Linked DNA regions of Homo sapiens. The protein of the gene in region 1 purifies or fractionates together with the protein of each later gene. This does not show direct contact. Each region holds a gene or a part of one and is shown in the gene's direction. Other genes may lie near its edges. The genes, in order: C5AR2, GSTCD, ARL6IP5, MAN1A2, GUF1, SLC12A7 and NR2F6.

What was found.
Region 2: the proteins of C5AR2 (region 1) and GSTCD purify together in Homo sapiens (affinity purification with mass spectrometry; 2 studies listed by BioGRID and IntAct, with this or other methods). This does not show direct contact.
Region 3: the proteins of C5AR2 (region 1) and ARL6IP5 purify together in Homo sapiens (affinity purification with mass spectrometry; 2 studies listed by BioGRID and IntAct, with this or other methods). This does not show direct contact.
Region 4: the proteins of C5AR2 (region 1) and MAN1A2 purify together in Homo sapiens (affinity purification with mass spectrometry; 2 studies listed by BioGRID and IntAct, with this or other methods). This does not show direct contact.
Region 5: the proteins of C5AR2 (region 1) and GUF1 purify together in Homo sapiens (affinity purification with mass spectrometry; 2 studies listed by BioGRID and IntAct, with this or other methods). This does not show direct contact.
Region 6: the proteins of C5AR2 (region 1) and SLC12A7 purify together in Homo sapiens (affinity purification with mass spectrometry; 2 studies listed by BioGRID and IntAct, with this or other methods). This does not show direct contact.
Region 7: the proteins of C5AR2 (region 1) and NR2F6 purify together in Homo sapiens (affinity purification with mass spectrometry; 2 studies listed by BioGRID and IntAct, with this or other methods). This does not show direct contact.

The regions. Positions count from the first base shown.
Region 1 is NC_000019.10:47,330,896-47,334,974, forward strand, and holds the start of C5AR2 (C5a anaphylatoxin chemotactic receptor 2), read left to right. Parts: upstream 1-1,279; 5' UTR 1,280-1,454; intron 1,455-4,079.
Region 2 is NC_000004.12:105,715,284-105,718,783, forward strand, and holds part of GSTCD (glutathione S-transferase C-terminal domain-containing protein), read left to right. Parts: intron 1-2,309; 5' UTR 2,310-2,330; coding exon 2,331-2,756; intron 2,757-3,500.
Region 3 is NC_000003.12:69,104,265-69,106,592, forward strand, and holds the end of ARL6IP5 (PRA1 family protein 3), read left to right. Parts: intron 1-199; coding exon 200-372; 3' UTR 373-1,828; downstream 1,829-2,328. UniProt on the Homo sapiens protein: Regulates intracellular concentrations of taurine and glutamate. Negatively modulates SLC1A1/EAAC1 glutamate transport activity by decreasing its affinity for glutamate in a PKC activity-dependent manner.
Region 4 is NC_000001.11:117,370,449-117,373,948, forward strand, and holds part of MAN1A2 (mannosyl-oligosaccharide 1,2-alpha-mannosidase IB), read left to right. Parts: intron 1-3,500. UniProt on the Homo sapiens protein: Involved in the maturation of Asn-linked oligosaccharides. Progressively trim alpha-1,2-linked mannose residues from Man(9)GlcNAc(2) to produce Man(5)GlcNAc(2).
Region 5 is NC_000004.12:44,677,210-44,681,219, forward strand, and holds the start of GUF1 (translation factor GUF1, mitochondrial), read left to right. Parts: upstream 1-1,210; 5' UTR 1,211-1,361; coding exon of another isoform or gene 1,362-1,376; 5' UTR 1,377-1,413; coding exon 1,414-1,578; intron 1,579-3,231; coding exon 3,232-3,343; intron 3,344-3,484; coding exon 3,485-3,633; intron 3,634-3,913; coding exon 3,914-3,994; intron 3,995-4,010. UniProt on the Homo sapiens protein: Promotes mitochondrial protein synthesis. May act as a fidelity factor of the translation reaction, by catalyzing a one-codon backward translocation of tRNAs on improperly translocated ribosomes. Binds to mitochondrial ribosomes in a GTP-dependent manner.
Region 6 is NC_000005.10:1,077,564-1,081,063, reverse strand, and holds part of SLC12A7 (solute carrier family 12 member 7), read left to right. Parts: intron 1-1,567; coding exon 1,568-1,666; intron 1,667-2,305; coding exon 2,306-2,363; intron 2,364-3,056; coding exon 3,057-3,231; intron 3,232-3,500. UniProt on the Homo sapiens protein: Mediates electroneutral potassium-chloride cotransport when activated by cell swelling. May mediate K(+) uptake into Deiters' cells in the cochlea and contribute to K(+) recycling in the inner ear.
Region 7 is NC_000019.10:17,235,920-17,239,419, reverse strand, and holds part of NR2F6 (nuclear receptor subfamily 2 group F member 6), read left to right. Parts: intron 1-3,354; coding exon 3,355-3,500. UniProt on the Homo sapiens protein: Transcription factor predominantly involved in transcriptional repression.

The DNA.
Region 1 (4,079 bases):
AGTCTCACTCTGTCGCCCAGGCTGGAGTGCAATGGTGAGATCTCGGCTCACTGGAACCTCCGCCTCCTCGGTTCAAATGATTCTCCTGCCTCGGCCTCCCGAGTAGCTGGGATTACAGGCACGCACCACCACGCCCAGCTAATTTTTGTATTTTTAGTAGAGATGGTGTTCTGCCATGTTGGCCAGGCTGGTCTTGAACACTTGACTTCAAGTGATCCACCTGCCTCGGCCTCCCAAAGTGCTGGGATTACAGATGTGAGCTACCGCGCCCAGCCAGTTCTGTGCGTTTTAAATGTATCCAACGCTCATAGCAAACATCCACTGCACAGATGAGGAAGTTGAGGTTCAGAGGGGCTGAGGCCCTGAACTTTGATGAGGGTGTGTCGACCTGGAATATGAATCTCATCATTCTGGCCCTTGAGTTCTTGTTCTCAGCCACTGTGATATGCTGGAAGAGGTTAAGAATTGCTATCACGGCTGTGGCTCACTTCTGTAATCCCAGCCCTTTGGGAGGTCGAGGTGTGAGGATGGCTTGAGGCTGGGCAACACAGCAAGGCCGCACCTCTACAGAAAATTTTAAAAAATTAGCCAGGTATGTTGGTGCATGCCTGTAGTCCTAGCTACTCAGGAGGCTGAGGTGGGAGGATCACTTGAGCCTAGGAGTTTGAGGCTGCAGTGAGGCATAATGTTTTCACTGCACGCCAGTCTGAGCGACAGAGCAAGACTCCATCTCTAAAAAAAGTAAAGCATCGCTATGGCCAACAACATCTTCCCATTCTACAGATGGAAAATTGAGGCCCAAGAAAGGAGTTGTTTGTGCTTTTTCTACCACTGAGGCGTTGGGCCCTGCGCTCAGCTGCTGTGGTCTTTTTGTGGAGAATGTGACCCCAGGCTGTCTTCCTCAGAGCCGAGGAGGAGGGAGGGATGTTTGTCTGTCCTGAGGCTGCAGAAGGGAGGGGTTGAACACAGTTAGAGGCCTGGAGGTGGCTGGGGGCAGCTGGCATGTTGTGGGCAAACAGAATCCAGGCCAAGACCTCTAAGGCGTTAAAGAGCAAACCGCATGCAGGTCTGGCTTCCAGGAAGGTGGGACTTCGAGACTAGGGTTGGGGACTTGGGATCAGCCCTCCACCCAACCGAGCCCTCTCCTGCCCTGCCAGCCACCCCGTAATTTTGGGTTCTGTGAGTCACGGGAAGAAGACAGGACAAACACACCCTGAGAGCGAGACAAGGCCACTCCTATTTTGTACTGCTTATAAAGATTCACTGGGACTGGTGAGGTGGCAGTGCTCAGCAGCATCCGACAGGAGCCCTGGCAAACAGGACGGATTTCCAGGACTCTACCAGCTGCCAGACACGGCAGGGAGAGACCCCAGACCTCCTGGGTCCTGGCTGTGGGCCCGGATTGGGCTCCCAAGTGGCGTTTGACTCACGTGGGGACACTCTTGGAAGAGACGGTAAGGATGGAGGCTACAAGGGCGGGAAGGAGGGAGAGAGAGATTGCATGATCTTGGCTTCTCGGAATCATTACTTTCAGAATCTGGGAAGCAGAACTAGAGTTTGAGAAGTGCAGTCTTATTACAGCCACACTGGAACGCACGTCACAGTCCTGGGCTCTTGAATTAACTTGGGCAGCCCAGCAGCAAAGCTCTTGTCAAAGGATCTAAGCATTTTTTTTCTTTCTCTTTTTGGAGACAGGTTTTCATTCTTGTTGCCCAGGCTGGAGTGCAATGGTGCCATCTTGGCTCACCGCAACCTCCACCTCCCAGGTTCAAGGGATTCTCTTGTCTCAGCTGGGATTACAAGCGCATGCCACCATGCCTGGCTAATTTTGTATTTTTAGTAGAGATGGGGTTTCTCCATGTTGGTCAGGCTGGTCTCGAACTCCCGACCTCAGGTGATCTGTCCGCCTTGGCCTCCCAAAGTGCTGGGATTACAGGCGTGAGCCACTGTGCCCTGCCCAAATGGTTTTTCACACACAGATGTATGGGAAACAGCCTCTCTCAAACCTGCAGGAATTCCTGCAGCTTTCGGCAGATCCACCAAACTGTAGCATGTGTAGCAAGCAAGCCCTTTAACTCAGCGATTCCAATTCTTTTCTCTTTCTTTCCTTTTCTCTCTTTCTTTCTTTTGACAGGGTCTCACTCTGTCTCCCAGGCTGGAGTGCAGTGGTGCGATCTTGGCTCACTGCAACCTCCGCCTCCCAGGTTCAAGTGATTCTCCTGCCCCAGCCTGCTGAGTAGCTGGGATTACAGGTGCACGCCACCACACCTAGCTAATTTTTGTATTTTTAGTAGAGATGGGGTTTCACCATGTTGGCCAGGCTGGTCTCCAACTTTTGACCTCAGGTGATCCACCTACCTTGGCCTCCCAAAGTGCTGGGATTACAGGCGTGAATCACCGTGCCTGGCCCCCTCAATGTTCTATCACAAAATCTGTCCACATTCTTGTGTGGTGTTTGTTCATTCTCATCGTGTAGAATATTCCACAGGGTGAACACCCCATGATGTGTTTATCCATTCTGCTGTGGGTGGCTATTTGGACGGTTTCTCATCTTGGGCTGCTGTGAACATTCTGGCACATGTATTCTGGTGAGCATATGTGTTCTTTTGCGGAAAGGAGGCTGATTGCTGGGTCGTGAGGGAGGAATCCTAGAAGATGGATGTTCAGGAATAAAGAATGTTCAGACTCCTTTTTTTTTTTTTTTTTTTTGAGATGGAGTCTTGCTCAGGCTGGAGTGCAGTGGTGCGATCTCGGCTCACTGCAACCTCCGCCTCCTGGGTTCACGCCATTCTCCTGCCTCAGCCTCCTGAGTAGCTGGGACTACAGGCGCCCGCCACCGCGCCCAGCTAATTTTTTGTATTTTTTAGTAGAGATGGGGTTTCACCATGTTAGCCAGGATGGTCTCGATCTCCTGACCTCGTGATCCACCTGCCTGGGCCTCCCAAAGTGCCGGGGATTACAGGTGTGAGCCACTGCGCCCGGCCAGCCTTCTTTGATTCTGCTCCAGGGTTTTCCAGAGCAGAGAACCCAGCAAGACTGGATGCACAGACAGGCGTGCACCAAGAGGCACATGTGAGGGTGCTTGCAATCACAACAAAAGAAACCTAAGTGACCACTTAGTCTCTCTGTGCCTCAGTTTACTCTTTTATCCTTTCACTTACCAAATATCGACCATGCCTGTGCTGTGTGCCAGGTTCTGTCCCAGATGCCAGGGACACAGCGGCACCCGAGGCTGGAAGGAGCTGATGTTGTGGGATATGAGGATGATAATATTGACCTCAAGGGTTTGTGTTGAGGGTTATATCTTGTAGGTCATAGGTGCTCAATAAAAGCCATCTATTATTTTAATTATTATGAAATAATAAGAAGGGTACCTATGATTTAAAAGCTAGATATAAGTACAGACGCTCTTTGACTTACAATGGGGTCCCATCTCTATCAACCCATCGTAAGGCTGGGCACAGTGGCTCACGCCTGTAATGGCAGCACTTTTGGGAGGCTGAGGTGGGAGGATTTCTTGAGCCCAGGAGTTTGAGATCAGCCTGGGCAACAGAGTAAGGGCTGTCCATACAGAAAAAAAAAAAAAAATTAGCTGGGCATGATGGCGTGCACCCGTAGTCCCAGCTACTCCAGAGGCTGAGGCAGGAGGATCAGTTGAGCCTAGGAGGTAGAGGCTGTGGTGAGCCGAGGTTGAACCACTGAACTCAGCTTGGGTGACTGAACAAGACGAAAACACAAAACAAAAGCCCCCAACATTTTCAACATAAGTTGAAAATATTGTAAATCAAATTGGATTTAATACACCTAGCTTACTGAACATCATAGCCTACTTTTTTTTTTTGAGACAGGGTCTCACTCTGTTGTCCAGGCTGGAGTGCAGTGGCGCGATCTTGGCTCACTGCAGCCTTGACCTCACGGGCGTAGCCTACCTCAAATGTGTTCAGAACATTTACATTACCCAACAGCAAGACAAAATCATCTAAGCCAAATCCAATTTTTTTTTTTTTGAGATGGAGTCTCACTCTGTCACCCATGCTGGAGTGCAGTGGTGTGATCTCAGCTGACTGCAACCTCCACCT
Region 2 (3,500 bases), on another chromosome or scaffold:
CAGAGCTCTATTCAGCTTTATAAAAAAACTCTTTGAACTTTGATCTTTAATAAATACCTTTTTGTTTTAAAATTATCTCTCAGTGACAAAAATTTTTAAAAAATAAGCTCAGGGAGAAAATGGCATCTGTAAGTTAAAAAGTTGTTGCTTTTACAGTATATAAAATAATTTTCCCCCAGATAATCTTTTAAGAAGTAACAAATCATGGTATATATCTGTTATATTTTAATAGAAGAAATATAAAATAAAGCAGTAGTGATTATTTGTATTATTAAGAAACTTAGATAATACTTTACTGACTATATTTATTTTTTATAATGGATTACAAGTTCCTTAGTTTTAAAAAATGAAGAACTAAGAAGCTTAAAGTGTTTAGGTCTTGTTTCAGATTTTTTTAAAAAAGGGATTTAAAATATTAAAGAAAATTTAGTATGATGAAGGTTTTCTAAAATTAAGTGTACACTAACATTTTGAATACACTTAAAAGACAAGAGGTGCATGTGTACTTTTTAACAGCTTTTAAAGTAATTTTCCTTCTAATATGTCATGTTTCTGGTACGTATTTCCATGGTGAATACTTTTAAAGAGTGCCATCTAGTGTCAGTTTTGGAATTGTAATTTATGTATTAGAACATTAGGAATTTTTGACCCGGGAAATGTATAAACATAAAAAGACAGGACAATTGATAAAAACCTTAAGGAATATGACTTGAAAATAGCCATGAAGAATCTGACCTCAAGACTGTGTGTGTTTGCACCTTTAACCAGTATGTATATTTATCTCTGCTTTCATTTGTCAAATACTGCTTGCTTATATATATAATAAACCTATAAAGCAGTGAACAAAAAATTTTTACTCATGGAACATTCTAGTTAGAGGAGACAAATAATAACATATAGTATATCACCATAGCAATAAGCGCTAGGAAGAAAAAACATAGATGGAAATAGAAAGGTTTTTTTCAGGGAGCGTGGGGATTGGGGTTTGTGATTTAAATTGAGTAGTCAGGGAGGATCTCAGTAAGAAGTTGCCATTGAATAAATAAATACCTGAAGGAAGTGAGGAAGTGTTCTAGGTACTGGAAACACCAAATGCAAAGGCCCTGATGTGAGAATGTACCTAGTGTTTTAGCAAGGGTCCCCAACCCCTGGGCCCAGGACTAGTATCCATCTGTGGCCTGTTAGGAACCCCACCTCAAAGTGGGAGGTGAGTGGCAGGTGAGCCAGCATTACTGCCTGAATGGCGCCTCCTGTCAGATCAGCAGCGGCATCAGATTCTCATAGGAGCTCCAACCCTCTTAACTGCACGCAGGAGGGATCTAGGTTGCACTCTCCTTATGAGAATCTAATGCCTGATGATCTGAGGTGAAACAGTTTCATCTGGAAACCATCCCCATCCCCCCACCAACCTCCCATGGAAAAACTGTCTTTCATGAAACTGGTCCGTGGTGCCAAGAATGTTGGAGATGGCTGTTTTAGAGGAATAACAATCTACTTTGGCTGGAGCAGTGAGCAATGAAGAAAGTTAATGAGACAAACTCTGAGACATAAAGGAGGATTAGATCAAGGAGATTTTTGTAGGCTGTTGCAGAAACTTTGGCTTTTCTCTAAGGAGGGTGGGAAGACCTTGGAGGGTTTGGTTATGGGGGTGTGAAGGAAAAGAATGGTGTAACCTGAGATGGGAAGACACATAAGGAGCAGGTTTGAGGGGTGGGAGAGAATAAGGAACTGGATTTTGGACAGGTTAACTTTAAGATAGCTATCAGTATCCATGTTATGGGGAAATTTAAATATTTTTATATTATGATTCAGCACTCAGCAGCTATCACTTACTTGAGGAGAATCCACTTCTCCTGAAAGAACGAATATCCCCTCCCTATTATTTTGTAGGGTCGTAAAAAAGAAGCAGTATGGAAGGACCAGCACTGTCAAAACTTCTCAAGGATATTATCCCCAGACAGCTCTCAGTATTTTTGGTTAATTTATTTCCCCTTCTATTTATCTCCTGTTCTCACATATAGTGAGACCCCAAAATACTTGATTGGGAGGGCTCTATTGCAAAGCACTGGGGTTTGCTCATTTTAAAGGAGCTGGGTGTAATATTTCCTCTAATGCTAGTTAATTGCACAGGGTGGAATTTTTTTCTTTTGGAAGTCATTTAGTCAGTCTTCAGAAACAAACCTTATAGCATTATTATCTACTGCAAATTTTTACTGATTTCTAGAACAGGCTTTTGAAACATTCATCTTTTATTTTAGCTTCTAAATGATTATATTCTAAGACCATAATCACTTCAATTTATACTTTAGGTGACCCAATGAAAGAAGAAAATGAAAGCCATAAAGAAAAGTCTTACAGAAGAAGAATACCTGTACCTGGACTTTTCTCACCAAACAGAAGGATGCATCTTTCCTCTTCATACATCTGTAACTTTATTTCTGTTATCTTACTGTGACTGTAAAATCTTTAAAATTTGCTTAGTTGTCACCAAAGAGGTGAGTAGAGATAGTTCACTACTAAGAGATGACCTGATCCAGGATGTTGAAATACAGATTATTTCAAGGCAGGAGCTCCCACCAATAGTCCAAAATTGCTGTTTGCCTGCAGTAGTAGAACGATCAGACAATTTTTGTAGAGCAGGACTTGCTGTTGTATTGAGACACATAATCCAGAAATCCTATGAAGCAGACCCCTTAAAGAAGGAACTTTTGGAACTTCTGGGCTTTAAAAAGACTTGCTTGAAAGCCTGTGCTGAAGTAAGTATAATGTCTTTTTTCTGTTATTTGAAGCTACACAGTGATAACATAATTACCTGACCATTTAATATTTTAACTTCCTATTAGGAATAAAAGTTTATTTATTTTAAAAAACCCCAGTAACCAATGAAATAAAGTAGCCCTTTGATATAGTTTGAATATTTATCCCCTCCAAATTTCATGTTGAAATGTGATCCCCAATGTTGTTGGAGGTGGGACCTGGTAGGAGGTGTTTGGGTCGTGGGGGCAGATGCCTCGTAAATGGCTTGGTGCTCTCACTGGGGTAATGAGTGAGTTCTTGCTCTATTAGTTCATGAGAGATCTAGCTGTTGAAAAGCGCCTGGTACCTCTTCCTTGCTCTCTCTTGCACCCTCTCTCCCCATGTGACATGCCTGCACTCCCTTTGCCTTCTACCATGACTAAAAGCTTCCTGAGGTCCTGATCAGAAGCAGATGCTTCTTATATAGCCTGCAGAACCATGAGCCAAATAAACCTCTTTCCTTTATAAATTACTCAGCCTCACCTATTCCTTTACAGCAATGCAAATGGGCTAATATACCCTTTACGTGTGTCAATATTTCAGTGCAGTATTGAAAAATAAGAATTTAAGTCTTAATTTATAAAGTTTGGAGACATTTTTAGAAAATAACTCTTTTTTCTTTATTTTAGTTATGTTGATTTTTAAATGGAATGTTTACATATAAATAGGAGCTCAAATAGCAATGCTTTGGAAGCCCTGCTTAT
Region 3 (2,328 bases), on another chromosome or scaffold:
AAAAAAACTATGTATGACTTGATGGAGAGCTTTACATAAAGTCCAAGGAGCCATTTGAAAGCTTGCATCAATTCGAGAAGCAGACTGGACTGTGGCTAACTAAGGCAGTTTACTAATAGTGTGAAGAGAGGGAGTGTAATATTGATATGGCAAAAGAGAATTGTTGCTTTGGTGTTAACCAGGTGTCCCTTCTCTGCAGTGATGTTTATCCATGCATCGTTGAGACTTCGGAACCTCAAGAACAAACTGGAGAATAAAATGGAAGGAATAGGTTTGAAGAGGACACCGATGGGCATTGTCCTGGATGCCCTAGAACAGCAGGAAGAAGGCATCAACAGACTCACTGACTATATCAGCAAAGTGAAGGAATAAACATAACTTACCTGAGCTAGGGTTGCAGCAGAAATTGAGTTGCAGCTTGCCCTTGTCCAGACCTATGTTCTGCTTGCGTTTTTGAAACAGGAGGTGCACGTACCACCCAATTATCTATGGCAGCATGCATGTATAGGCCGAACTATTATCAGCTCTGATGTTTCAGAGAGAAGACCTCAGAAACCGAAAGAAAACCACCACCCTCCTATTGTGTCTGAAGTTTCACGTGTGTTTATGAAATCTAATGGGAAATGGATCACACGATTTCTTTAAGGGAATTAAAAAAAATAAAAGAATTACGGCTTTTACAGCAACAATACGATTATCTTATAGGAAAAAAAAAATCATTGTAAAGTATCAAGACAATACGAGTAAATGAAAAGGCTGTTAAAGTAGATGACATCATGTGTTAGCCTGTTCCTAATCCCCTAGAATTGTAATGTGTGGGATATAAATTAGTTTTTATTATTCTCTTAAAAATCAAAGATGATCTCTATCACTTTGCCACCTGTTTGATGTGCAGTGGAAACTGGTTAAGCCAGTTGTTCATACTTCCTTTACAAATATAAAGATAGCTGTTTAGGATATTTTGTTACATTTTTGTAAATTTTTGAAATGCTAGTAATGTGTTTTCACCAGCAAGTATTTGTTGCAAACTTAATGTCATTTTCCTTAAGATGGTTACAGCTATGTAACCTGTATTATTCTGGACGGACTTATTAAAATACAAACAGACAAAAAATAAAACAAAACTTGAGTTCTATTTACCTTGCACATTTTTTGTTGTTACAGTGAAAAAAATGGTCCAAGAAAATGTTTGCCATTTTTGCATTGTTTCGTTTTTAACTGGAACATTTAGAAAGAAGGAAATGAATGTGCATTTTATTAATTCCTTAGGGGCACAAGGAGGACAATAATAGCTGATCTTTTGAAATTTGAAAAACGTCTTTAGATGACCAAGCAAAAAGACTTTAAAAAATGGTAATGAAAATGGAATGCAGCTACTGCAGCTAATAAAAAATTTTAGATAGCAATTGTTACAACCATATGCCTTTATAGCTAGACATTAGAATTATGATAGCATGAGTTTATACATTCTATTATTTTTCCTCCCTTTCTCATGTTTTTATAAATAGGTAATAAAAAATGTTTTGCCTGCCAATTGAATGATTTCGTAGCTGAAGTAGAAACATTTAGGTTTCTGTAGCATTAAATTGTGAAGACAACTGGAGTGGTACTTACTGAAGAAACTCTCTGTATGTCCTAGAATAAGAAGCAATGATGTGCTGCTTCTGATTTTTCTTGCATTTTAAATTCTCAGCCAACCTACAGCCATGATCTTTAGCACAGTGATATCACCATGACTTCACAGACATGGTCTAGAATCTGTACCCTTACCCACATATGAAGAATAAAATTGATTAAAGGTTTTTTTGGTGAGACTTTATTTAATGCACATCTGTCTTAAATACCTGAGAAACTTGGCGACGACCCTATAAACAGTGAAGCAAACACTTCAGCTGTTTCAAATACTGTTTAGTAAAGCTTGAATACTTTATTAACTTGCAGCCAGAATAAAACAATTCCAGTGGGATCCTATTTTTAAACCTGGCACGAGTTTTATATACATGTTAGCCCAGTTTTATATACATGTTAGCCCATTCCATTTTCTACAAGGTGAATTCTGCCGATAAAATCCAATAAATTTGGAGAAACTAATAAAAAAAAAGATACCTGTAATTACTAATGGCCAGTAGTCAATTCTGGAAGGGTAATAACAGAAAAATGTAACATATAAATGTTGTAAATTATGATTACATTTAAAAACAAGCTAAAATCTGCAACTAAGATCTTTAGGGTTGGGTGGTAGAAAAAGCATAATGTGAACTGCTTCACCTCTTTTGGCAAAACCTGTGTATTGAGGCCATAAGCTATGAAATTGGATCATCTTTTCTT
Region 4 (3,500 bases), on another chromosome or scaffold:
TTATATCAGTTGACATTTGCTTTAGCGTATTATTTGCTGTTGTTTACTATATCAGAAAAGAGTCTGTAGTAATAAACTTTCTTTTACTTTGAGCAAGGAAATACTTTTTAAATTAAGTGTATGTTTAAAATGTGGAAACAGAAAACATCAAATGTATAAACATTAACTTATTTAAAAATAATTCAGAAAAATAGCACTTTTACAGTTGGTACTAAGATCATATGTATTTTGGGTATGGGTCAGAACTTACCTAATTTAGAAGAAACAAATTGACAGTTTATCTTCATTTAGTGTGTGTGTGTGTGTGTGTGTGTGTGTGTAAGGGTACAGGATAGAGGGCTGAGGAATGTTACTTTAACTAATAAGTAATGGAAAATAAGTCATGGTCACCATTTCTTATTTGCAGTACTTAAGAGATACTTGTTTAGTTAGTATTTCTTTATTAATAGATTAGTATAATAATTTGGTGTTTAAGTTCTGGAGTCAGACTGTATAGATTCATACCCTAGCTTGCCACTGATTAGATTTATGATACTGAGAAATTTTAAAACTCTATATTGTTTCCTTTGTATCACAGTGGCATGTATCTACTTTACAGATTGTTTTATTGAAAGAGATAGTACATGCAAAGCACTCAACATAGTTCCTGGCATTTAGTAAATGATCAATAAATGTTAACTATTATTATCATCAGTGATTATAATTGTAATGGAATATTTTTATTCGGAATCTACTTTCCTTTAAATACTGTATATTTTCTGAAAAGTAGGGTACAGTTTGATTAATATTTAGAAGTATACTAGGATCTTATTGTCTAAAGGAACATTTTATAACCAAACTGGTTGGCAACAAATGTATGCCTACTGTGGCAGGCCCCGCTTTCATGAAACTTTCAATCTAGGGAGAGATGATGGGCATTAAATAAATAATTTTGTTTTTGAGGTGTGATGAATGTTACGAAGTTGTACTCAGTGCTTTCAGAGCAAGGAATGTGTGACCTAGTCTATAGAGTTGGGGGTGGAGGGGCAGTGGGAATAAGGAAGACTTCATTGAGAAAGTGTGCCTCAGAAACGTAGAATGAGTAGGAGATTGCTTAATGAAGTGGAATTGGAGGTTGAGGGGAGGTTGAGGGTCAAAGCAGAAGACACAACATGTGTGAGAGCCCTAAGGAAAAAAAGCTTGGCATCACTAAGAATCTGAGAAATGTTAAGTATGGCTGTTGCAGAGGGTGTGGGTCTGGGTGATGAGACTAGATGAGAGGTCAGGTTTGGCCTGCTTACAAGTTTTTTGGCCTCCTTATTGTTGTTACAAAAGTTTGAATTAGTTGTCAGCATTCACAGATCAGGAGATTTCATGTTAAAGTCTGGATTTCTGATCTTTCTTGAAAAATTAGAGGTTATGGCAACATCCAGTGTATTTTCAGATGGTAATATTCAAGCCACAACCCAGTAGCAGCTGCTCCCTTGGGAGGGGGACGGGGGCGGGCATGTGCCACTCAGAGTGCGAAATAAGTAAATACAAATCAATCAATATTTAACCTGGTTGTTGTTGAGTTTGCAAATTCTAGTCAGGATTCTAGAGAGTTTGTAGTTAAATATTTTGGTTTTTATCATAAATACTAAGAGAAGTTATTGAAGGATTGTAATAAAAGCAAGGGAATGACATGATCATTTTAAATTAAAAAAATTAAATAATCACTTTGGTTGCAATGATTACTTACTGGATGGTAAGAAGCAGGAGGATAACAAGTTAAGAGGGGCTGGGTCACAGAGGATATATTGGCTTAGATCGCAGTGGTGATAGTGGAGAATGAGATAAATTAGTGGAGAAAAGTGGTTGAGTCAAGAGGTGTTAAACTATTAAGTTTCACAGAAAATGGTGGTTGGTTAAATATGGGGCCAAAATAGAAAGAAAAGTGAGTCCAAGATAATGTCTAGGTTTCTGGGTGACATGGCCATGGATTAGTAAGAAATACATACTATATTTAATTAATGCCCTAATTTATAGATAATAGTGGTATTACATGAATTTAGTATATTTTCATGAGGAAACCAATATGTTCCCTTCTATTAAGTAGTTCATAAATAATCCAGAATTTTCAAACACTGTAGATACACTTTATAGATGATAAGGATATATCAAATGTGTAGTTTGGTGTTGATTATGGTTATTTATAGTATCTATGATTTTGCAGTACCCAAAACCAGAAGTTGTTATAATATACATGTTGTTATACGCTAATATACATAAAGTAATATACGTAAGTATACTTTGTGTACATAATAGATCTCAATAATTAAAAACTTTTTTTTTTAAAACTGACATTTGTTTTATATAATGGCATTTATAGATGGGCTTTGTGAGTTAAAAAAAAAAAAACCCAGCTTATGAGCTGTTTATCTGAATAGCTAATAAGTTTCACCCTCCAGTCAGAACTTTGTTAGTCTGAATTGAATACTTGAGGGTCAGGTATATGTTTACCTTTGATACTTTCCTCAAAGGCATTGGAGTTATAAATAAGGCTGCATCTTAGTTCTACTAACTAGCTGTGTGGCATTGTGCTAGACGTAATCACTCAAACCTGTGCGCTGTCCAGTACCATAGCCACTAGTTATATATGACTATTGCACTTAAAATGTGGCTAGTCCAGGCTGCAGTGTGCTTTAGTGAGTTTCTCAAGTTCTTCATGTTATGATTCGTGTTTTTTTTTTGCTTGATTCAGTTTTGTTACAAGAGTAGAGATTTCAAATCTCACTATTGCAATTTTAATTTTCTTGTCATCTTTCTTTGTCTCATCCCTCTTCTGGACCTTTTTTTTCTATCCTGTTTTTTATTTGGGGCTTTCTGCTCCTGTTTGGGCGACGTCACATTGTTTTATGCACTAATATTAAAGTCTGCTGGATGTTCCATTTCCCTTATAAATTGCTCATGGTTATTTTTCCCACTTCCCTTTACTCAGACATGAATTATTGTGAGGTTTGTTTGTATTTGACGTTTGTCAACAACAGACTGGTGTAGATGCCTTTGCTGCATTTGTTTTTTTTTTTTTTTTTTGGGTACATTCTGTGGTCCAGGCTGGAGTGCAGTGGCACAATTACAGTTCACTATAGTCTCAAACTCCTATGCTGAAGTGATCCTCCTGTCTTAGCCTTCTGAGTAGCTGAAACTATGGGCATGAGTTGGGACTACAGGTGTGAACAACCATGCTAGGTTAAGTTTTAATTTTTGTAGAGATAGGGTCTTACTTGTTGCCCAGGCTGGTCTCAAACTCCTGTGTTCAAGTAATCCTTTTACCTTGGCCTCCCAAAGTGTTCGGATTACAGGTGTTAGCCACTGCACCCAACCGAATCTTATTTTTATCGATATGGATACTTTCAAATTGGAGCTCATGCCTAAGATTGGAAAGTTGGTAATGCAGAAGCTAAGTATCTTCTAGAAATCAGTAGTACATGGTAAACATTAATTGATTTTTTTTTTTAAGTGAAAGCAAGTTTATTAGA
Region 5 (4,010 bases), on another chromosome or scaffold:
AATTAGTCGTCTATCAAGTACTGTTTTAATTCATAAAAGTTCCAAGAAAGGGCCAGGCGCGGTGGCTCACGCCTGTAATCGCAACACTTTGGGAGGCCGAGGTGGGCAGATCACGAGGTCAGGAGTTCGAGATCAGCGTGACCAACATGGTGAAACCCCGTCTCTACTAAAAATACAAAAATTAGCCATGATTGCTGGCGCGCGCCTGTAATCCCAGCTACTCAGGAGACTGAGGCAGGAGAATCGCTTGAGCCCAGGAGGCGGAGGTTGCAGTGAGCCGAGATAGCGCTACTGTACTCCAGCCTGGGCGACAGAGCGAGACACCATCTCAGGGGGGAAAAAAAAATCCAAGAAAGAACTGAGTCTGGTACAGAATTCTTGATCCTAAGAAATCCTCCAAATGAAGAAACTTTCAAAGGCTCTGGAAACAATACGAATGATTCTGTCTTCAGTCACAATGATGAACTGAACACAGCTGTCATCTCCCTCCTTCGCACCAAATTCTGGATATTCCAGAAAAGCGCAAGAGAAATAGTGGGAGACAAACACTGGATGCAATCCTCCTATCACCTGTTTTATCCCCCATTCTTACTTCGTCAGAGCTCATTCCATGAAGTGGTAACTTGATGACGATGGAAACATTGGGGGTCCAGCATGGAACTTTTTCCCACCTTTACTTCTTGCCAAAACCTTCCTGGATTCAGTATTGCAATCAATGTTATGGCCCGTTTCCTTTCAGATGCACTTCAAGATTAGCTCTGTCACTGACAACATGGGGAATACATTTCGACCTCCAGATTTTAAAAGTGCCATTATTATTTTGCCATTAGGTAGAAGGCTAAGTCTCAACGTTGTGCTAATAATAGCATCTTTAAGTCCCTGGACTAAGACCTCGGCTCCTGGTTCGGGAATCAGACTGCCTGGGCGGCACTCCAGGCTCCACAGCTCCCCACCTGTGAGCTCCTGGGCAAGTCACTCGGTCCGGATTTCCAGAGGTAGTTTGGGGGAACTGACAGTACACACACCACAGGGCAGTAGTAAGAAAGAGACAATGCAAAGGAATTGGCACAGCACTCAGCAGACAATATAAGCTAATATGTACTCTGTCTACACCCTGCGTTTTAGGGAGTCAATCGAAAGCCTCCACTCACGTGACCACTCCACTACCCGGCGCCAAGACGCGCTGATGTCACGACAGCGTGCGGCGTGCAGACGTCGGCAAGCTGCGCCGCCGCTTCGGGTTGCTTCCGGATCTGGTACTTGGGCAGAGCTCCCCGGGGTTCATTGTCTTCGCTTCACAGGATCTGTTTGAGTCCTGTCCACCGGATCCTACGGGGGGTACCTTCGAAAAAAAACGGGCTATGCTGCTGTTGCGTGTGGGTACCCTCTCCTGACGCCTCCGCCGCCCGGGTCATGTGGACCCTCGTGGGTCGGGGCTGGGGGTGCGCACGCGCTCTCGCGCCACGAGCCACTGGGGCCGCGCTTCTGGTGGCCCCGGGGCCCCGGTCCGCGCCGACCCTTGGGGCTGCTCCAGAGTCCTGGGCTACCGACAGGCTCTACAGCTCCGCAGAATTCAAGGTGACTGCCCCCTGGAATCTGATTTAGCCAAGTTTTCAAACGTTGGAGTGCCCCATGCGATCTTGGACATGTATAGGGCTTTCTGGGACTAGCTCTGAACCCTGCTTGCAACTTGGTACAGGGAGGCAGAGCGGAGAGTGTGAGCACTGCTCAGGTTCCCGACCCTCCACTCCTCACTAGTGTGACCTTGGGCAAGTCACTAACTTTGTAGGTTTTCTCATTTTCAATGTCAAATGTTGATTTGTTTACGCGAGCCACTGGTCGAAGTGCTTTGCGTTTATTCATCTATTTAATTCTAAAAAGCCTACTAAGCAAGTTGCTAGTAAATATTAATATAACGTCCATTTTCCTGCAAATTAAGTAGCTATGTGGCCTGGGCAAGTTACTACATTGTCACTCTCCTACTTCATTTGTTGAATGCAGAACTGATCAAACATCCAGTGGCTAATTTGTGAGATTTGTGTGATGTGAGAAGTGGACTTTTTTAGACTAATACCTAGAATGCAGGAAGTTCTCGGTCTGTCTTTGTAGTTTTATTTCATTCTACCTCAGCCAGAGCAAACCTGTGTAATTTTGACTCTGGTGGGAGAGGGTGGGAGGTTCAACAACTCTGATAATTGTGAATGGATACATTTTAGTCAGAAAAGTGAAGTGACTGAAGGCAAGCTATAAGTAGGCAGAAAGACAAAACCTTAAATTAATCAACTTTGGCCCTAATATGCCTGTGTTTTTAAAAATGGATTTATATTGCAATTCGAAGTATAAAGATGGTGCAATTCTCTATACCTTTTGAACTGAAGGGAAAGAAAATCTACAGGGCAAACATCAGAATTAGTTTTTTTTCGGCAGACTTTCAGCTATAATTGTGCTTTTATTATCTGTCTTTATGGGGCTATTAAAAAACAAAGCTCACGTGAATTTTATATTTCATTGTAATTTCATGGTTTTGCTGATTGTGAAATATGCAGTTGATTGGAAAAAAATAGAGTACAAAAAACTGGTATATTTTGCTTGATAACAATTTCTAGCAATTTGTGATGTGTTTCAGTAAAACGTTAAAGAAGATGTGTACACGAAAAACCAGGAGTTCCATTTTAAAATATTTTTAAGTTTTAAGTGATAAGTCTTTTGTTGGATGTCATCTTTTTTTCTTTCTCACCAGAGAAGCTGCAAAGTAGCAAAATTGTATTTAAAATAAAATTTTGAGGCTCCATTAGAGACACAGATTTTTAAATAAATCTGATTCCTGATTAAATGTGTGATAGGAGCAGAAAATTTATCTTCTTTCAGCTTTTCTGTAGCTCCATTGCCTCAAAAGTTTTACTAGACAAGGTATTCTCAGGCCTTTAGAAGTTCTAGGTGTCTCATGTTCTCCATTCACGATAATAAATTCAGTTCCTGATTGGCCCTAAAAATTGTGTAGAAATGTTAAGGGATTATGATTTAGCTGTATAGTTACCTTTGGCTATTAAACTGATGTTCCTTGTAATATGAACTTAGCCATACATGTCTTTTTCTTAGAATAATAATATAAACAATATAAATGCTAGAAATGATATTGTTCAACGATTAAAAGAATATTCTTTGAATTGGTATACTTGTTTGATAGTATGCCAAATTTATACTCCTAAATGTGGTATTTCCCCTTTCTAGGAAAAACTTGACATGTCTAGGTTTCCTGTTGAAAATATTAGAAATTTCAGTATTGTTGCACACGTGGATCATGGCAAAAGTACTTTAGCTGACAGGCTCCTAGAACTTACAGGTATTTCATTTATGTTACATACTTAACTGATGGCTGCGAGTTATTGGGAATTACTTTTACTCTTAAATTTTAATTTTATAAGTAATATTCTCTTTTTTTTTTAAAGCCCAGAGAAATATCAATAAGTGTTTCTGTTTATAGGGACAATTGATAAAACAAAGAATAATAAGCAGGTTCTTGATAAATTGCAAGTGGAACGAGAAAGAGGAATCACTGTTAAAGCACAGACAGCATCTCTCTTTTACAATTGTGAAGGAAAGCAGTACCTTTTAAATCTCATTGATACACCGGTAAGTTTAATATTAATTTTGCATGTATTGTTAAAGTCAACATTGTGTCAGTAGTGCAAACAGATCCTTGTTTAATTTTTGAACTGAGTATTAAACATCTGCCTTTGCTTTTTGTTTTCTCAGTGTTCTTATGTTAGTGTCAGTTGTTTCAAAAGTGCAGGCTACAAAAAAGAAACGAATATTTAACAGCTTTTATCAAGTAAAGTCAATAAATTTGCCATAATGCTCTTTCCTAAAAAATTAACTCACATTTACAGGTATCAATATTTTTGTTTCTCAGGGCCATGTTGATTTTAGTTATGAAGTATCCAGGTCACTTTCTGCTTGCCAGGGTGTTTTACTTGTGGTTGATGCAAATGAGGTAGGTATTTTTCATT
Region 6 (3,500 bases), on another chromosome or scaffold:
CTCTGTCTCCCTCTTCTTCCCTCCCTCCCTCTCTCTCTCTCTGTCTGTCTGTCTGTCTCTCTCTCTGTCTCTCTCTCTGTAGTGTGTTCCTTCCTGCCCCTGCTTATCTTGCCTGTTTGGCTCAGGGGAAGTGGCTGAGGTCTCTGCCCTGCGTCCTGATGGATTTGTGAGAAGCCTGTCTGCTGCTCTCCCAGGCAGCCCTGTGTCAGGAGAAGCTGTTGTAGGGTTGCTGGGAACACCTGGCAGGCTGTTAGGAGACACCTAGGAGTGGCCTCAGTGTGAGCTCAGAGGCCGGGGACCTCGGCCCTCTGTGTCCTCCTCAAACAGTGGGCCTTGTTCCGGCGGTGGGTGGGGCCCTTGGTTGTTCCCCAGGGGGTGGGGCCAGGCCCCGTGCTCTTCGAGTCGCACACACACGCCCCCGGCTGTCTCCACTCGGCCTTCTTGTCGGGACGCCCCTGACAGGCGCTGGCTGCTTGTGCAGCCTGCAGCTGCCCTTCTGGTCCCTTCTGGTCCCTCCCACGTCTGCTCCCGGACTTCATCTCAGCACATCCGAAAGCCCTGGAGCCCAGGGTCAGCTGCAGGGCCTGGCCACAGCGCTGGCTTCTCGTGTTTCCCTTGCCTCCACTGAAGGTGGGCCCGTCTTGCTATGGAGGGGGTGATCTGCCGGGGGTCCTCTCCCTGTACCTCCGCTCCAGCCTCCCCCGTCCGTCTGAGTGCGCTCCGCGCCGTGGGTGGAGGGCGTGGGGGCAGAGCCTCTGCGTGGCTCCTGGTGTCTCCGCGCCGTGGGTGGAGGGCGTGGGGGCAGAGCCTCTGCGTGGCTCCTGGTGTCTCCGCGCCGCGGGTGGAGGGCGTGGGGGTAGAGCCTCTGCGTGGCTCCGGGTGTCTCTGAGCCGCGGGTGGAGGGCGTGGGGGCAGAGCCTCTGCGTGGCTCCGGGTGTCTCCGCGGCACTGGATTGTGGGCTCTGCTGCCTCCCAGGCCACCCCGAGCAATGGGTGCTTCAGGCTGCGCCTTGGATGGGACCGAGCCAGGCGTGAAGTGGCCCCCACCGACCCGGCTTCCCAGAGCTTTGTAGGAGCCGATTGTGTGGAAACATCCCCGGCCGTGGCTCCCTAGAGCAAGGTGGTGCCACAGCGGGAGGGGTCGCAGCGTCTGCTGGCCTGGCTGGCTGGGCTGAGTCGTTCTAGGATCTCATTCCCAAAGTCCTTAGGTCCTGGGGGCCTGTGAGCCATTGCTCAGCACCGTCTCTGGGCTGACCCTTGGCCATGGGATTAACACAGGCTCCAGAGAAGCCCTGGGTGTGGGGGGCGTGGGGGTCAGTGACGGGGTCGGTTCTCGTCCTCGGATCCAGGGGAGCAGTAGACGTGGGTGCTCATCCGCGTGCCTGGGCCCGCATCCCCTCAGCCGCAGTATTGCAGCGTGGGCTGGCGGAGCTTGGACTGCAGCCTCGGCTGCAGCTCACGCTCGGGGTCTCCCCAGAGACCGCCTTTCCAGCTTTCTGGGCAGGGGCTGCCATCACATGGCACTGACTCCTCAGATGGGTCTTTGCAGCATTTTCCATGTTCACAGGTATCATGGCGGGTTCAAACCGGTCCGGGGACCTCAAGGATGCACAGAAGTCCATCCCCACGGGGACCATCCTGGCCATAGTGACGACGTCTTTCATCTGTATCCTTGGAGGGGTGCAGGCGAGGGTTCCAGCCTCTGCCTGGGGGGAGGCCCCCATGCCCTCCCCGGCTCAGCATCATACCCTCGGCCACCAGCATGTGACTTCCCAGGTTAGGCTGTGCTCTCACCACGTCATCCTCCCTGGGAGACGGGGCAAGGGCTGCTGTCAGGACCCTGGCTTCTTCACCACTGTGTGATGCGATCGTAGAGAAAACAGAAGCAGTCACCCTGCCGCGTGTGGACAGTGATGCGCAGCGGTGTGTGGGGTGTGCCGCCGGCAGGCTGGGCCCGCGGGGCCTCTGGCTTCTCAATCCCAAGGCTGCCTCTTTCCAGCCGAGCATTGTCCCCTCAGCATGGTCCCCTGCCAATCCCTGGCGGTCAAGCACCAGGCCAGGTGTGTGTCCACCACCCCAGGGCCCCGTTCTGTGGCGCTGGACAGAGCCCCAGGAGGGTGCGCTGAGGACACGGGGGACAGGACGTGCCCGGGATGGGATGGGATGCAGAACGGTCCCCGCCCACCTGGATCCTGCGGCCCGCTGGCCAGTGCATCTCCCCACCCACCCCACCCCACCCCACCCCACCCCCCGTACCTGAGGACCCTGCACCCACGGACCTGCCTTTCCTTGACGAGGGCTGTGGATCTCTCCTGCATTGTGCTGTTTGGGGCCTGCATTGAAGGCGTGGTCTTACGAGATAAGTACGTTTCCACCTGCAGTTTTCGTGCAAAGCCTGTAGTCTTCAAGGGTTTTCCTGAGGATGAATTCGGCTTTGAAATTACATCGCCCTAGGACTTCATGTCCGCGTGCAGAGCTGAAGGCGTCCTGGTCCCAGGGTTGGGATCCCTTGGTCTGATGTGTCGTCTCTTCCGCTGGAGCCTAGGGCCTGGGGAACCGTTCAGAGCCAACTCCAAGCCCTGATGCGGCTGGGGGCGCAGGCCCTTCCTGGGGAGGCCACAGGGGTGTGGACGGGTGAGGCTTGGCCCTGGGAGATCCCTCAGCCCTGCTGGCAAGTGGAGAAGTAGTGGGGTCCCAGGCAGGTCATCACTGACCCTGCATCCTCATGGGGTGTGCGTGTCTGGCAGCCCCAAGGCCCCGGGGGTCCTGGGTGGTCCCTGACTGAAGCTGATGCCAGGCTGGGTCTTCCCTGCTCCCAAGAGCGACCCTGAGGTGAGCAGGACCCCCTCCCCCGCTGAAGACCCTCCAGAGCATTCTGGCCATGCTGGGCAGAGCCTGGTGGAGGTTTCAGCCAACGGGGACTGGAGGCCGGGCCTCAGCTTTCCAAGGAGTCGCCCCCACTGCACTGGGCCCCTCGCTCTGGGTGGGAGAAGACATTTTGTCTGACTCAGGCTCACTTCTGAAAGCCGCCCGCCCGCCTGCCCGCCTGCCTGCAGGTTCGGGGAGGCCCTGCAGGGGAACCTGGTCATCGGCATGCTGGCCTGGCCCTCCCCCTGGGTCATCGTCATCGGCTCCTTCTTCTCCACCTGCGGTGCCGGCCTGCAGAGCCTCACGGGGGCACCGCGCCTACTGCAGGCCATTGCCCGTGACGGCATCGTCCCCTTCCTGCAGGTGAGTCCCGCACCCTCGTCGGGGGGACCCTGGAAGGTCAGGGTCGGGGGCTCTCCTCCCCTGCGGGATCCTCACAGTGCCGTGTGTGGGACGCATGCCCGCGGCTTGGACCCCATGGTGGTCATTCTGCCCCTGGCCACTGCACAGAGCATGGGAGTGGTGGGAGGTGGGTGGTGGGCAGAGGCAATTCTAGCCCTCCTGCCTGCAGGTCCCTCCGAGCTCGGCCCCGGGTGTGTCAGGAGCGGCTGTGAGGGCCCACAGCCACGTGT
Region 7 (3,500 bases), about 30 Mb from region 1:
CTCCCAAAGTGCTGGGATTACAGGCGTAAGCCACCGCGCCCGGCACGCCCACCTAATTTTTGTATTTTGTTTTGTTTTGTTTTTGAGACAGAGTCTCGCTCTGTTGCCAGGCTGGAGTGCTGTGGTGCCATCTCGGCTCACTGCAACCTCTGACTCCCTGGTTCAAGCGATTCTCCTGCCTCAGCCTCCTGAGTAGCTGGGATTACAGGCACATGCCACCACGCCCAGCTAATTTTTGTATTTTTAATAGAGATGGAGTTTCACTATGTTGGCCAGGATGGTCTCGATCTCCTGATCTCGTGATCTGCCCGCCTCGGCCTCCCAAAGTGTTGGGATTACAGGCGTGAGTCACCGCGCCTGGCCTAATTTTTGTATTTTTAATAGAGATGGTGTTTCACCGTGTTGGCCAGGCTGGAGTCTCCAACTCCTGACCCCAGGTGATCCGCTCGCCTCAGCCTCCCAAAGTGCTCGGATTATAGGCATGAGCCACCCCACCCGGCAGCTTTTTTTATTTTCTAGAGACAGAGTCCCACTATGTTGCCCAGGCTGGTCTCGAACTCCTAGCTTGAAGCGACCCTCCCACCTTGGCCTCCCAAACTACTGGGATTACAGGAATGAGCCACCATACTTGGCGTAAAGCTGTTGTTTTTTGGTCTAGGCCTTGGTGGGAGAAGCTGAGAGAGGCAGCTGAGGGGCTTTCTTTTAAAACTGATCACTCCCTGTGGCCCTTTTAAGTTTGGGGGTAACTTTCTTGTCCCTGCCCCCATAACATGGATTTTGCCTCTACTTGTCTATTTTACCTAAAATCCTCATATATCTCAAGTCATGGCCTCAGAGCAAACAGCCTCGCCAGAAGTCTCCAAAAGCCTCGGGTGGAAATATTTATGATGACAGCTCATGCTTTAAGCACACCTGCCTCGGGTCCTTTGCACGGGCTCTTCCCTCTGCCTGGAGTGCACTTTTTCCAGGTCCATACATGGCTCCCTCCCTAACCTTGCCTTCAAGGTTTGCTCAAACATCACCTCCTCAGGGAAGCCCTCCTGATCCCCCTGTATTTGACGCCACCTGTCTTGTTCTGTAATTTGCTTACACCCAGAATGTCCATTCCCTGTGGGCAGGTATTTTTGTCTGTCTTGTTCCCCAGCGCCTAGACCAGGGCTTGGTACACAGTAGGTGTTCAATAAATGGTCCTTGGCTTGAATTACCATGTAATTACCTTTCCTGTGTGGCAGGCATTATTTTAAGGTATAGATTCTCATTTAATTCAGTGATTGGTGACATCGTTTTTGAGACGGGGTCTCACTCTGTCTGGAGTGCAGTGGTGCGATCATAGCTCACTGCAGCCTTAAACTCCTGGGTTGAAGTGATTCTCCCACCTCAGCCTCCTGAGTAGCTGAGATTACAGGTGTTCGCTACCATGCTGGGCTAATTTCTTAATTTTTTGTAGAGACGGGGTCTCGCTATGTTGCCCAGGCTGGTCTCAAACTCCTGGGCTCAAGCGATCTTCCTGCCTCAGCCTCCCAAAGTGCTAGGCTTGCAAATGGGAGCCACTGTCTGCATTTTACAGATGAGGAAACTGAGGCACACAGCAGATTGGTGAGGCCATTTGTCAGAGAGCAACAGAGTTGTGATTGGGATTTGAACCTCCACAGTCTGGGCTGAAGAGCTGGGGAGGGGTTTGAGGAAGAGTGAACAGAAAGTGCAAAGGCCGGCCAGGCGTGGGGGCTCACGCCTGTAATCCCAGCACTTTGGGAGGCCGAGGTGGGCAGATCACGAGGTCAGGAGATTGAGACCATCCTGGCCAACATGGTGAAACCCCGTCTCTACTAAAAATACAAAAATTAGCCAGGCGTGGTGGCAGGTGCCTCTAATCCCAGCTACTCGGGAGGCTGAGGCAGGAGAATCACTCGAACCCCGGAGTCGGAGGCTGCAGTGAGCTGAGATTGTGCCACTGCACTCCAGCCTGGTGACAGAGCAGAACTCTATCTCAAAAAGAGAGAGAGAGAGAGGGAGAGAGAGAGAGAGGAAGAAAGGAAAGGAAAGAAGGGAGGGAGGGAGGGAAAAAAGAAAAAGAAAAAGTTCAAAGGCCCTGGGGTGGGAATGTGGCCATGTGAGGGAGTGGTGGTTGCTCACAACCCAGTGAACAAAGCGGGAGGAAGCTTCCTGGAGGACCGGGGAACCACTTTTGGGCCCCATCCACCTATCCCCATTTGACAGTTGACTCAGACTCAGGGACCCCTTGGAGCGGGCTTCAACCCATGCCCTGGCTTCTCCGCTTAGCTCTGTTCGCCCCTGGCTTCTGCTCGCGTTCCCCTCCGGTGTTTGCTCTACACAGAGTTGACCTGGAGTTCACGGAGGTGATGAGATGGGGCATGCCAGCTCATTAAAGCTCATTAATTAGTCTGCTGGCAACCAGCCCAGTCAGCCCTGCCATCCCGCCCACCCCGGCACAAGCCAGGCAGGCACATGGCCAACTCTCTTCCTCTTCATGCCTCAGTTTCCCTTTTCTCACCCACCTGGTCACTGCAGACGTGCCCAAGCCAGCAGCAGGGCCTCCCCGCTTCATAAGCAAGGCTACTGATGGCGGCTAATGTTTACTGAGGACCTATGGCAGCCCCCCTGGGACCCCTCCTTACTGTAGGTCCCCCCCAACCCTTCCCTGCACTGTAGCCTCTGCAGGGACCCAGACCGGCCCTCAGGGGTCACCATCTGGTGGGGAGGGGGATGGAAGGTAGAGAAATGATCCCTGTTCCATAGGAGAGAGCCAGTGCTGGGTGGGTATTGATCTGTTGCTTTGGGGACCAAGCTGGCCAGGGTCCCCAAGTCCTCCATGGCCCATCCTCAGCTCTGGGAACCCCATGACTATCTGTTAGGAGGCTCCAAAAGGTTTATTAGATGCTCCTCCTTGTCCCCAGGAGCTGGGGGTGGGGGGTGGTGGCTGGACCTAGACAGGGACTCCTGGACTCTTACTTTCTAACCAGCCTGGCGCCCATGGGGTGGGGTTGGGCATTCTGGGAAAGGCTGGGCCTGGAGGCTTTGGAGGGGAGGGCCTGAGTGACCCCTTGATGACTTTTGTCTCCCTTTCCCGTTATTCTCCCTACCTGCCCCCCCCCACCTGCCCCCCACCCCATGTCTCTATGGGCACCTACTTGGCCCCTCATCCCCCCTCTTCCGGCCCTCTCCTCTCTACCCCTCGCTTCCCTTCCTGTCTCTCCAATCTCCTCTCCTCCCGGCCTTCTGTGCCCCGCCCTCCCCTCCCCCATCTCCTGTCCCTCCCCCGTTTCCTGCTGCCCGCCCCCCCCCCCCCCGCCTCCCCTCCCGCCCCCATGTCCCTCCTGTCCCCGCCTCCCGCAGCGGTGCAGCGCGGCCGCATCCCGCACTCGCTGCCTGGTGCCGTGGCCGCCTCCTCGGGCAGCCCCCCGGGCTCGGCGCTGGCGGCAGTGGCGAGCGGCGGAGACCTCTTCCCGGGGCAGCCGGTGTCCGAACTGATCGCGCAGCTG